Homo sapiens: one gene and its partners. The protein of the gene in region 3 interacts with the protein of the main gene of each other region in a biochemical or structural test. Each region holds a gene or a part of one and is shown on either strand. Other genes may lie near its edges. The genes, in order: CSNK1E, BTRC and PER2.

What was found.
Region 1: of the proteins of PER2 (region 3) and CSNK1E, one has a biochemical effect on the other in vitro, tested with the Homo sapiens proteins (one study listed by IntAct).
Region 2: the proteins of PER2 (region 3) and BTRC form a complex in vitro, tested with the Homo sapiens proteins (one study listed by BioGRID).

What each region holds. Positions count from the first base shown.
Region 1 is NC_000022.11:38,310,905-38,314,554, forward strand, and holds part of CSNK1E (casein kinase I), read right to left. Parts: intron 3,266-3,650; 5' UTR 3,254-3,265; coding exon 3,178-3,253; intron 1-3,177. Other genes in the region: TPTEP2-CSNK1E (casein kinase I), read right to left, coding at 3,178-3,253.
Region 2 is NC_000010.11:101,525,028-101,528,677, reverse strand, and holds part of BTRC (F-box/WD repeat-containing protein 1A), read right to left. Parts: intron 2,666-3,650; coding exon 2,479-2,665; intron 1-2,478. UniProt on the Homo sapiens protein: Substrate recognition component of a SCF (SKP1-CUL1-F-box protein) E3 ubiquitin-protein ligase complex which mediates the ubiquitination and subsequent proteasomal degradation of target proteins. Recognizes and binds to phosphorylated target proteins.
Region 3 is NC_000002.12:238,257,525-238,261,174, forward strand, and holds part of PER2 (period circadian protein homolog 2), read right to left. Parts: intron 3,430-3,650; coding exon 3,304-3,429; intron 2,530-3,303; coding exon 2,445-2,529; intron 1,121-2,444; coding exon 973-1,120; intron 877-972; coding exon 752-876; intron 1-751. UniProt on the Homo sapiens protein: Transcriptional repressor which forms a core component of the circadian clock.

The DNA of each region.
Region 1 (3,650 bases), on a different chromosome or scaffold from region 3:
GGAGCCAGCAAGGCTGGCCGGGGACGCCCTACAATCACCACTGTCCCCAAACCAACAAGACAGGGGCCCAGGAGGGTGCTGGCAGGATGGTGAGTCAGGGCAGGGTCCCCTGAGGCCCTTGCACCAGTGAAGATGGGAGAGTCAGGAGTCTGACTCGCCTCCCCAGACTCAGACCCAGAGGACCCAGACCCTTCGAAATCAACTCCGAACTAGAAACTAAGACCAATGGTGGGGGCGCAGCGCACAGCACTACTGCTGGGCCCAGCACACGTGGGTATTTTACACGCCACGACCTCATTACTTTGCACGACCCCATTTTGCAGATGGGGAAGCCAAGGATGGACAAGGTCATCACCTGCTCAAGCGCATACAGCTCACAAAAGGAAGAACCAGCACCCAAACCTAGGTCGAATTTACTCTAGAGCCAGTACAAAGAGGAGTAAATCTGTACTTAGTTTTTAAAATGAATGAGATGACTATGCAGATAAACAGGAAGTCCTGTCCCCAGGGAGGTCCCACCACACAAGATTCTGGATTTTCTGAGTGATCTTGGGCTGTCCCCGCTCCAGCCATGGGCCTGTCTCCTGTCTGCAAAAAGAGCGACGGGACCTGGGATGGGCGCTGTCTAGGAACAAGTCTGTGCCAAGAGCTGTCTCCATGCCCTTTGACCTCCAGCCAGTGGCTCCAGACTTCAGTGCTCAGCCCAACAGCTTCAATAATACGAGGGTCCTTTACACCCACTCCAATTTCACAAACAGTAAGGAGCTGGGTACACTCATTTCAGATGAGAAGACTGAGGCTCAGAATGATATGGTGACTTACTCCAGGTCACACAGCAAATGAGGAACACGCTGGGGATCTGAACCTGGACTGGCCCCCACATCTCAGCCCTTTTCTTTCCTTCTTTTTTTTTTTTTTTTGATGGAGTCTTGCTTTGTCGCCCAGGCTGGAGTGCAATGACACGATCTCAGCTCACTGCAACCTCCACCTCCCAGATTCAAGCCATTCTTCCGCCTCAGCCTCCAGAGTACCTGGGATACAGGCATGTGCCACCACACCCAGCTAATTTTTGTATCTTTAGTAGAGACAGCGTTTCACCATGTTGGCCAGGCTGGTCTCGAACTCCTGACCTCAAGTGATCTGCCCGCCTCGGCCTCCCAAAGTGCTGGGATTACAGGTGTGAGCCATATCTCCTGGCCTCCTTTTTTTTGAGACATGGTCTCACTCTGACACCCACGCTGGAGTGTGATCTCAGCTCACTGTAGCCTCAACCTCCATGGCTCAGGTGATTCTCCCACCTCAGCCTCCTGAGTAGCTGAGATTACAGGCGCGTGCCGCCATGCCCAGCTACTTTTTATATTTTTCTTGTAGAGATGGGGTCTCACCATGTTGCCCAAGTTGGTTTCGAACTCCTGGACTCCAGCAATCTGTCTGTCTTGGCTTCCCAAAGTGCTGGCGTTACAGGTGTGAGCCACCGCACCTGGCCATCCCGGCATTTTTCTATTCTGCTGTGAGGCTACTGTGCATGTCTGTGCATGTCACAATCCCCATTTTCTCATTGGTTTGCTTGACTAGCCTTCAGTGAACACCCACTGCGCTGGGCACTAGCAGATATTACCAAATGCCTGCCTCCCCGGGAGTAGCTTGGGGTCGCAGAGAAAAACCTTTAAACCAGCTGCACCACACACTCTCCCTCCCTCTGAGCTCCAGGGTGTCCATAGGGGAGGCTCATCTACTAAGCACTCAGCAATGAACTGCACATCTGGCTGGCACTTTAGAGTTTACAAAATACTTTCCCATCTGTCATTTCATCTCTGCCTTGGAACAGTTCTTGGTCAGTCAGGCAGCATTATCACAAACTACAGATGGGGACACTGAGGCACAGAGGAGCTGCATGACCTTCCCACAGCCACACAAAGCCACGTCTAGAACGCAGAGCTAGACGTCTAACGTCTCCCTCGGCATGTTCTGTCTTCCACGCTCTCACTCATGTGGAGGGCTGTGGGCATACAGGCTGCTTCTGCCAGTTTTCTAGAGCGGTCTTGGGAGGCCAACTTGACCATCTGTGCCTCAGTTTCCTGATGTGCCAAACAAATAATCTGGTACTATCTCTAGGGGCTGCAGAAAGTACCCTGCAAGGAAGTGGTCAGGGAACTCCCAGTCTCCGTCCCCGTCTCCATTGAGGCTTCCTTAGCACATTTCATACTCCAAGGAACCCTAACCATGGGGTAACAGAAACCCCGAAGTTCTGAGCTGATGGACACGACACACAGACTTGGTGTTCTCTGCACTGGACAGAGCTGATTTTCATTTTCCAAGGAGGGTAACCAAGGCACAGAGGTGTGTCTAGCCTGCTTCTGAGGGTGCAGGGACAGGAATGAGGATAACTCGTAGAAGGGCTGGCCACCTCACTCCAGCAACTTCAAGCCTCCACCCGCTAATCCACAAGCACCAACACTAAATACCTTCCCTTTGGACCAATAAGCACAAAGGAAGGGCCAAGACTCATGACCGTGCCCCTCAGAAGTGGCACTGAAAGGCGCAAGCCTCATTTCTCCCAGGCCAAGGGGAGGACTGAGAGGTCAGTGATTTGTTTAAAATGCAACATCACAGCATACTCATACTTTCAACAGGAAGCACATCCGGAGAGAAAAAGAGAGAGAGAGAACTCCCTAATGAGGAGACCGCATCCCCCCACCCCACCCCCGAGGTTACAGGGGAGCCTGCGTCATCCCAAAGCCTGCCTGGGCTGGGTTCCAGGAGGCCAGGACATAGAGAGGGGGGCCTGGCTAGGGGTCCAGCAGCAACCCAAGTCCCTTCTATCTACCAATATCCTTCTCCCAGGAAGCAGGGGAGAGGATGTGAACCCCGCCTGGGTTTTCCCACACCCAGCTGGTGACCCAGCTGACCCGGGACACTGAGGCACAAAAGAACCGCATGACTCCTGCAGAAACTGGAGCTAAAAATACCCTCCAGTGCCCAGCCTGGCCTGCGAGAGGAGCCCCCTGGCCTGCCTCCCGGCAACCTGCTGCTTCCTTCCCCATCTGGGATGGCCCTGGGGCAAATCATGCCCCTGGAGCCACATTCTGACTTCAGATCCCCAAATCCTGGGGTCTTTCCTCCTCTTGGTCCCATGGGCTGGCCCCAGGGGCTCCAGCTGGAGCTAGGAACACTTACCCAGGTAGATATCTCCGAAGGACCCGCTCCCGATCTTCCGTCCCAGGCGGTACTTGTTCCCCACACGTAGCTCCATGGCTCACTCTTGCTGCAGAGGAAGCAGGAACATGAGGGTCAGCGACGTGGGGAGCCGGGAAAGGGGTCCAGTCCACCAAGGCCAGGCAGAGCCACCAGGAACTCGAAAACCTGCATTCTCGAAGACCACATTCTGCAGGTGTCAGGTGGCCCACAGCCTGCACTCCACACACCTGGGGAACAGCTAAGGCAGGCTGAGGACAGGTTTCAGTGTGGCCAGAGAGGAAGCAGCCAAGCAAGCATGTCTTTGGGGGATGCTCATTCAGGGGCCCCTCAAAAGAAGCTTCTCAAGGGATCACAACGGGCATCAGCCCTCTTACACCTCCTACCCCCCAGGCTCCCACAGCCTGGCCTGGTCTTCCCAAGTACTGCCCCTGCCCAGAGGCCAGACCTCGCCA
Region 2 (3,650 bases), on a different chromosome or scaffold from region 3:
GAATAAAGTCAACATGTAAAAACAGAAGCAGCAACAAGAAAGTCGAGGGAATAATGGAGGAAGTTGACACGGGATGTATAAGTATTTGGAATTTCATGGGTTTATCATGGGATTAAGAGGATAAACATGCCCAAAGACAAGGGGATATAGTCAGAACTCTGAAGGATACTCAAAAGAGCGGGAATGGGTTTCTGTGGATAAAGAGATAGGGGAAAAAAGTGGTAATTAGTGCTGGATCCTGGATTACTTCACCTACCCTTTAGAAAGGCTCAAAAGCCATCTTCTCAATGATTGTTTTTTCTTTGTAACTAACATAAAAGATCTTGCCATTTAGTGCCAATCCCAAGCAAAACTGTGGAGCCTTTTACCTTTGGCATTTTCACATCCATCTGCCAAGAACTGCCCACTTACTTCTTGATCTTTCTGCCTTCAAAAAAGGACTCAGTAAACTCCCAATTTATGATGAAGGTTTACTGTCATTTACAGTCCAAATGGGAACACAATGTATTTTAACAGGTAACAGAACCTTTATAGCTAAAGGAATGAATCTCCTTAACTGAAATTTCAGGAGTTATTTGGAGACGAGATTCTTTTTTTCTGAGGGATACAGAAATCTTCTCAGCTGCCCTAAAATTTTCTCATGTAAGCAACTGCCTGCTGTATCCCCAAGGCTGGTCCCAGCACTCTTAGCAAAATGATGGACCCCGAATACCATATAACTCCATTTTTATTTGCTTTGTTGTACTATTAAAGAGTTTATTTCCAAAGTATGAAGTAGGTTATGAAAGATTTCTATTTTTCTATGTAGCGAAATAAGAATTAAAAAACATATTTGAGAAGTAGTAATAATATTCTTTTGTGTGTGTGTGTGTGTGTGTGTGTATGTGAGAGAGAGAGAGAGAGAGAGAGAGAGAGACAGAGAAAGAGACAGGGTCTTGCTCTGTTGCCCAGGCTGGAGTGCAGTGGCATGACCACAGCTCACTGCAGCCTCAACTTCCCAGACTCAAGCCATCCTCCCACCTTAGCCTCCTGAGTGGCTGGGATTACAGGCATGCGCCACCAGGCCCAGCTAATTTTTTGATTTTTTTGTAGAGATGAGGTCTCAATATGTTGCCCAGCCTGGTATCAAACTCCTGGGCTCAAACGATCCTCTTGCCTTGGCCTCCAAAACTGTTGGGATTACAGGCGTGAGCCACCCCACCCGGCCAACAATATTCTTTGTTACACAGCCTAAAAATTGCCTAGTTTTTTTGTTCCTTTAATTCAATTTGAGAGAAAAATTTAAACAGTCTTCCTAATAGCCAGAATGATAAAAATCTGAGGCATTTGGTATAATATTTATAGGTCATTGTATTTATTATGTGTTAATAAATTTCAAAGATAGAAAAAAAGAAAGAGAGCCAACTACTTTTTCATGAAAATTCAAAGGAAAGCTGGCCCATGAATATTTATCTTTTAAAAGTGTTCTCTACTTTTAACTGTTTTCCTCTTTATGATCCAAGATAAACAACTGATAAAATTAATTTGGAAGGACATCACTAAGCACACACATGCCTATTATAATTTTTTCTGTCAATGAGAATATTTAATATGTCACCTTTATTTGTGAACTATTACTACGTAGCTTTCCTATAGTGACATTCTAGAGACATACTCTGAGAGAAAAGTATTTAAAGAAAGATATCTTTCAGAAGTTCTAATGAAATAGTACTGTTAAGAGAACAACAAAAAAATTAGTGAAGTCTCTTAGACTGCTAACTATATGATGCTTTGGGGAATTCGGAATTAAGTCAGAAAATCTTGAAAAACAGAAGTCTTAAGAAGAAACAATGATTTATACTTAATTTCATTTTCACTTTTTCTGATGGCTAGAGTTCTTATTCCACTTGGGCTTAAAAATAATTTTTGATTACAAAGGTGACAAAACACCAGAGGCATAAGATAAAGGCAAGAAATTTTCTGAAAGAAACCTAGGGTTCATGCGATTCTCCTGCCTCAGCCTCTACAGTAGCTGGGATTACAGGTGCACGCCACCATACTCGGCTAAATTTTGTATTTTTAGTAGAGTTGGGGTTTCGCCACGTTGGCCAGGCTGGTCTCAAACTCCTGGCCTCGAGTGATCTGCCCACCTTGGCCTCCGAAAGTGCTGGGATTGCAGGCGTGAACGCACTGTGCCCAGCCACAGGATACCAACTTCTGCCCAGATAACAGAATGTTTTAAACAGGAGGGCTGATCAGCTTTCCATTATTTTTTGCAAAGCAGTATTAATACAATATCATGTCATTTTGTGAGTGACAGGTAAGAAGAAAAACTGCTGAGTATATGAACATTTGTTCTCTGTTACATTTTAAGCTAGAAATCAACAAAATCACCATATTAAATGAGAAGTGGTCTCATTGGCTCCCCAAAAATCTTTCAGTGACTGTGAATGGCCAGGTCCTGAAGCCGTATAAGAGTAAGAAAAGTTAAAGGCTCACCATCCTCTTCGTTCTGCCAGGCCTCTCCACAGAGAATCTGTCCTGACCATTCTCTCGATAAGCTTCTTCCACAGCATGCCATCAGAGGTCACTCGGTACCATTCCTTGCACACAAGTTCAGCAGCACATAGTGATTTGGCATCCAGGTATGACAGAATGTTCTCAGCAATATGATCCAATCCCCGAGCTTTCAGTAGGGGGAGGAGGCAAAGAAAAAGAACACAGAAGGTGGCGAATGATTTTTTACAAAAGGTCCTTTAAAACAGAACAGCATTTGTTCTGCTATGAAGGCACATCATTGTCCCTAGTGTGGTCCAGTTTCTTTTTCAAACAGAGGCTTGGGTAAAATGAGTGTCAATAATTTTTCCATAAGGTTACAGAAATGAACAGTATTTTCCATCTTCCTTTAGATAAGGAAGTTAAAGCTAACAACCAGCAAACCCCCCAAGACATTAAAAATAAAAAGGATTCCAGAAAACAATTCACATCTATCTATATGGATTTCAGCACTAGGGGATGTTCTATGGATGGCATCTCAAACTCTATGATTCAGACCCCCCCAAATCTCTATATTAGGTCCATTTCTCATTCTGTTTCTATTACTGCTGTAGTTCCAAAGCTGTTCGGTAAAAGAAATGTCCTTTAAATGTACTAGGGGAGAGGCACTAAGTCAGAATGTGCTGGGTTATAGAATTTTGGGCATGCAGAAAGGAGAGAAGAAGGAAATACAGAATGGCATGGAAATATCCCAAGAGAAAGACAGAGATGTATGTTTAAGTTCAAGAATGGGTTTAATTTCAGATTTAAAAAAACTATATTTGAGAGTAGCTGCTGCTATAAAACCTAAATGACAGTTGGGCAAAAATGAAAAAAAATTCCAGACCAAAAGATAACTTGGTTAGCATTTCAGAGAATATTTTGTAGGAGGTGCAGAGGAAAACAGTGGAGAACAGATCTTGGGGAGTGTAAACCAGAAGGGCTTCCCAATTAAAGTTCTCCACCACCCAAATCTGTACTGAGGTCTCAGAAGAAAAGATCCTATAAAATAGGATGATCTCACTAAAAAAACTTCTTTTGCCTGCTGTTCTACATTTACAACTGAGATAAAAACATTCAAAGTTATTTCTGTTTACAAAGTACATATCAGAGGTTTTCTACAGACTTAAATAGTT
Region 3 (3,650 bases):
GTGCAGTGATGCAATCTTGGCTCACTGCAACCTCCGCCTGCCAGGTACAAGCCATTCTCCTGCCTCAGCCTCCCAAGTAGCTGGGATTACAGGCATGCACCATGATGCCTGGCTAATTTTTGTATTTTTAGTAGAGATGGGGTTTCACCATGTTGGCCAGGCTGGTCTTGAACTCCTGACCTCAAGTGATCCACCCACCTCGGCCTCCCAAAGTGCTGGGATTACAGGCGTGAGCCACCGCGCCCAGCCGGGGTACCATTTCTAATCCTGGTGGTGAACATCAGCAACACTGACAGCGTTGTGTTAAGCAGCCTGGGATTTAATGTGATTTATGGGCCATGTTAACATTCAGGCCAAGGGCCCCTCTGAGACACACTGGAAAGAGGGCCTGCCCTAGACTGACAACTTGAGACCAGTGTGGCTGCATGAGGGGGTCAGCAGACGGCCCCTCAGTGTGGCCGCATGAAGGGGACCAGGAGATGTCCCTGCAGTGTGTCTGCATGAGGGGGGTCAGGGGACGGCCCCAGGCCTCCAGTAGCCCCACTGGCTTCCTGTTCTCAAAGCCAAGGCTCTGACAGAACCATCTTTGCCTCTAGTTCCTAAGAAGGGTGCTGACTTTTGAACTACTTTCATCATTTGAAAAACAGCCTACACCCTTACACTGTGTCCACAGAAGCCATGGGGACGTCTGACTCTACTCCAGAGGATTTACATTATTTCACATGTACATGGCTCTACACAGATTAGATACCTCCAGCGTGTGGCCCTGGGCTGACTGTGGCCTTCCGCTTATCACTGGACCTTAGCGCTGGGACGTTTGCTGGGAACTCGCATTTCCTCTTCAGGGTGGCAGCCTCATTGCAGCTCTCCAAGTACCTGTGTGAAAGGCATGAACCACTGGTGAGGCCACACAACATGAGAGGAGGGAAGGTGTGTGAGATGGTGGAGACTCGGCTGGAAATGCCGGCATACCTGATGACGCTGTCCAAGCAGCTGATCTGCTGGTAGGAGCAGGTGGGCTGGTTCTTGCAGGCCAACTCCTCGGGGAAGCTGACCCCCAGGCTGTCCTTTTCCATGGCAGGGACAGCTTTCTTCTCAGCTGGGGGATTAGTTTGCATTTCTGAAGGAATGGCAAAATTGTTCTTTCATTCATTTTTCTCCCACAGAAAACGCTGTGTATTTACAAAGCATTTTCGTTCTACCTGAAGACAGGGCTGGGGACTCAGAATCTGCTTCATGAGTATGGAAGCCTGGGGACAGCCTGGCATCTGGCAGCCCTGTGGGCACGAGCACCACAGTGCCGTCCACAGAGAGACCTGGGGGGGGAGCTGCTGCCCAGCCTGGTGTCTGCTTCTCTCTGGGGTCTAGGCTGTCCCCAGGGGTCAGGGACTCAGCAGTGGGAGACAGCAGTTCTCACTTGAACTCTTAAACTTTCAGGGCCAATGAGAGCCCACGTACTTTATGCTCCTCCTGGGCCAGGCCAGTGTTTTCAAGGTGATCCCTGCTAGTAACAATTATGATGACAACTGCCTGCTCACTGTGCTGCAGATTCGACTCTTGCCCCAACGACATTCATCACATGCCTGTCCCCTAGGGACCCTCAAGCAAAGAGCTGTGTCCAGCTCATTAGCGTGTCCCCAACACCCAGCACAGAGTCCAGCAGGCAGCATGTCCACCAACACATCCCCAAGGCCAAAAGTCCTAGCGGTGTCTGGCCAGAGTGTTCCCCACGGGAGGCTTCGGCCTGAGCACAGAGAATGAGCAAGGGCCCACCAGGGGGAGGGGACTGGGATGCATGCATGTGTGCACACGTGTCTGTGTGCATGCTGTGTGAGAAATACATGCGGGACAGAGGAGCAGCATGAATCTGAACCCGCGCATGACACTGTGAAGCTGCCTGGGAAGTGTGGCGCTGTGGTAGGAAAGGGCTGCTGCAGTGGGGGTGGGTCGGCAGCCCCTGGGTGGTACTCCCCACTTCAGACAGGTTTGGTTTGAGTGTATGTGGATGCTGGGCAAACCGTCGGCAGTTGTGTGTGTGTGTGAGTGAAGGGTTTGCAAGTGTAAACACACAGCCATACAGCTACTCTGTACAGCAAGAACAAGCGGCCCAGGCCGTGGCTCCCAGGCACACCCTGCTGGCAGGCCAGGGTGCAGGAAGGCACACTGGTCACAGCTCCCCAGGCCTGCACACCTAGCCACACCCCGCCAGGCCTGCAGGGCATCAGGTGCCCAGTGTGGACATCAGTGCCTGCACTGGCTGAGTGCAGGACTGGGCTGCTCTCGCCTCTTGGAAGCTGCAGACTGTGCTGAACGCAGAAGGGGGTGTGACACGGCTACAAGGTAGACTCCCTGCCAGCCAGAGTCAGCATTTAACCCAGGTTCCCTCTTCTCATGTGGCCATACTCTAGTTTCAGTAAGGAAATGTTGAATATTTTTTTTTTTACCTGTAACGGATTTTTTCTTTTGTTCTCCAGATTCATGAGAATAATGACTTCTATTTTTGGTCTTGTTACCATTTTTACAAATTTCCTTGAAGAAAAACAAAATGAACACATTATTCATTCTAGGAGACCTCCTTCAGTCTGTCCGGCAAAGTGAGAACAGAGGATGGCTGAAATAATTTCAGCAACACAGAAGGAAACTGTGGATGAGAAATCTGACAGGTGTAGAGCTAGATAAAACCTATTTGATGATCCTAAAGAATAATAAAAAATAAAGCAAAACGGCACATTACATTTTTTTTTTTTTTTAAGACAGAGTCTTGCTCTGTCACCCAGGCTGGAGTGCAGTGGCGCAATCTTGTCTCTCTGCAACCTCTGCCTCCCGGGTTCAAGCCATTCTCCTGCCTCAGCCTCCCGAGTAGCTGGGATTACAGGGGCGCGCCACCATGCAAGGCAATTTTTGTATTTTTAGTAGAGACGGGGTTTCACCACCTTGCCCAGGCTGTTCTTGAACTCCTGACCTTAGGTGATCCGCCTGCCTCGGCCTTCCAAAGTGCTGGGATTACAGGTGTGAATCACCGCACCCAGCCCACATTTTCTTCTTTCTATCCTAGTTAAATCTTCACTTTTGCTTGTTTTGTCTGTTTTAAATAATTTTCAACCAACACTTAGCTATGGTTTCTAGCTCTTTCAACTCTTAAGAGATTAAAAAGTCCCAAGTGGACAAAGTTTAGAAAGGAAGCAGCAACAGCTGCAATCAGGAAGCCCCTCCTAACTGCCAAAGGTTGTCTTGAGTGTGCTTTTTAACTCTGGAGGGACATCCACAAACTCATTTTCTCAGGGAGAATGGAAGGAGACGTACGGCTCTCCTCCGGCGTGAGTCCTCATGGCCGTTGCTGTCGCTGGAGGAGGTCTGGCTCATAAGGTGCTCGTGGGACCCGTTGCTGCCCAGACTCCCGTAGCCACTGGAGCCGCTGTGGGGGACGGGCTGGGGAGACAGCAGACAGCGCTACAGACACAGCCAGGGCTGCTGAGCTATGCATGTGGCCCCCTGCCAACACACCCTGTTTCGCAGAGAGGATGGCGACCCGCCTAAGGCTACATGGCAGAGACCAGGGGAGCTGAGGTTTGAACCCCAGGGTCAGCTCCAGAGGTAGACTCCTGGCCTCCAGCCGCGGTGCCCCGACCCAGACATGCAGTCACCGAGGA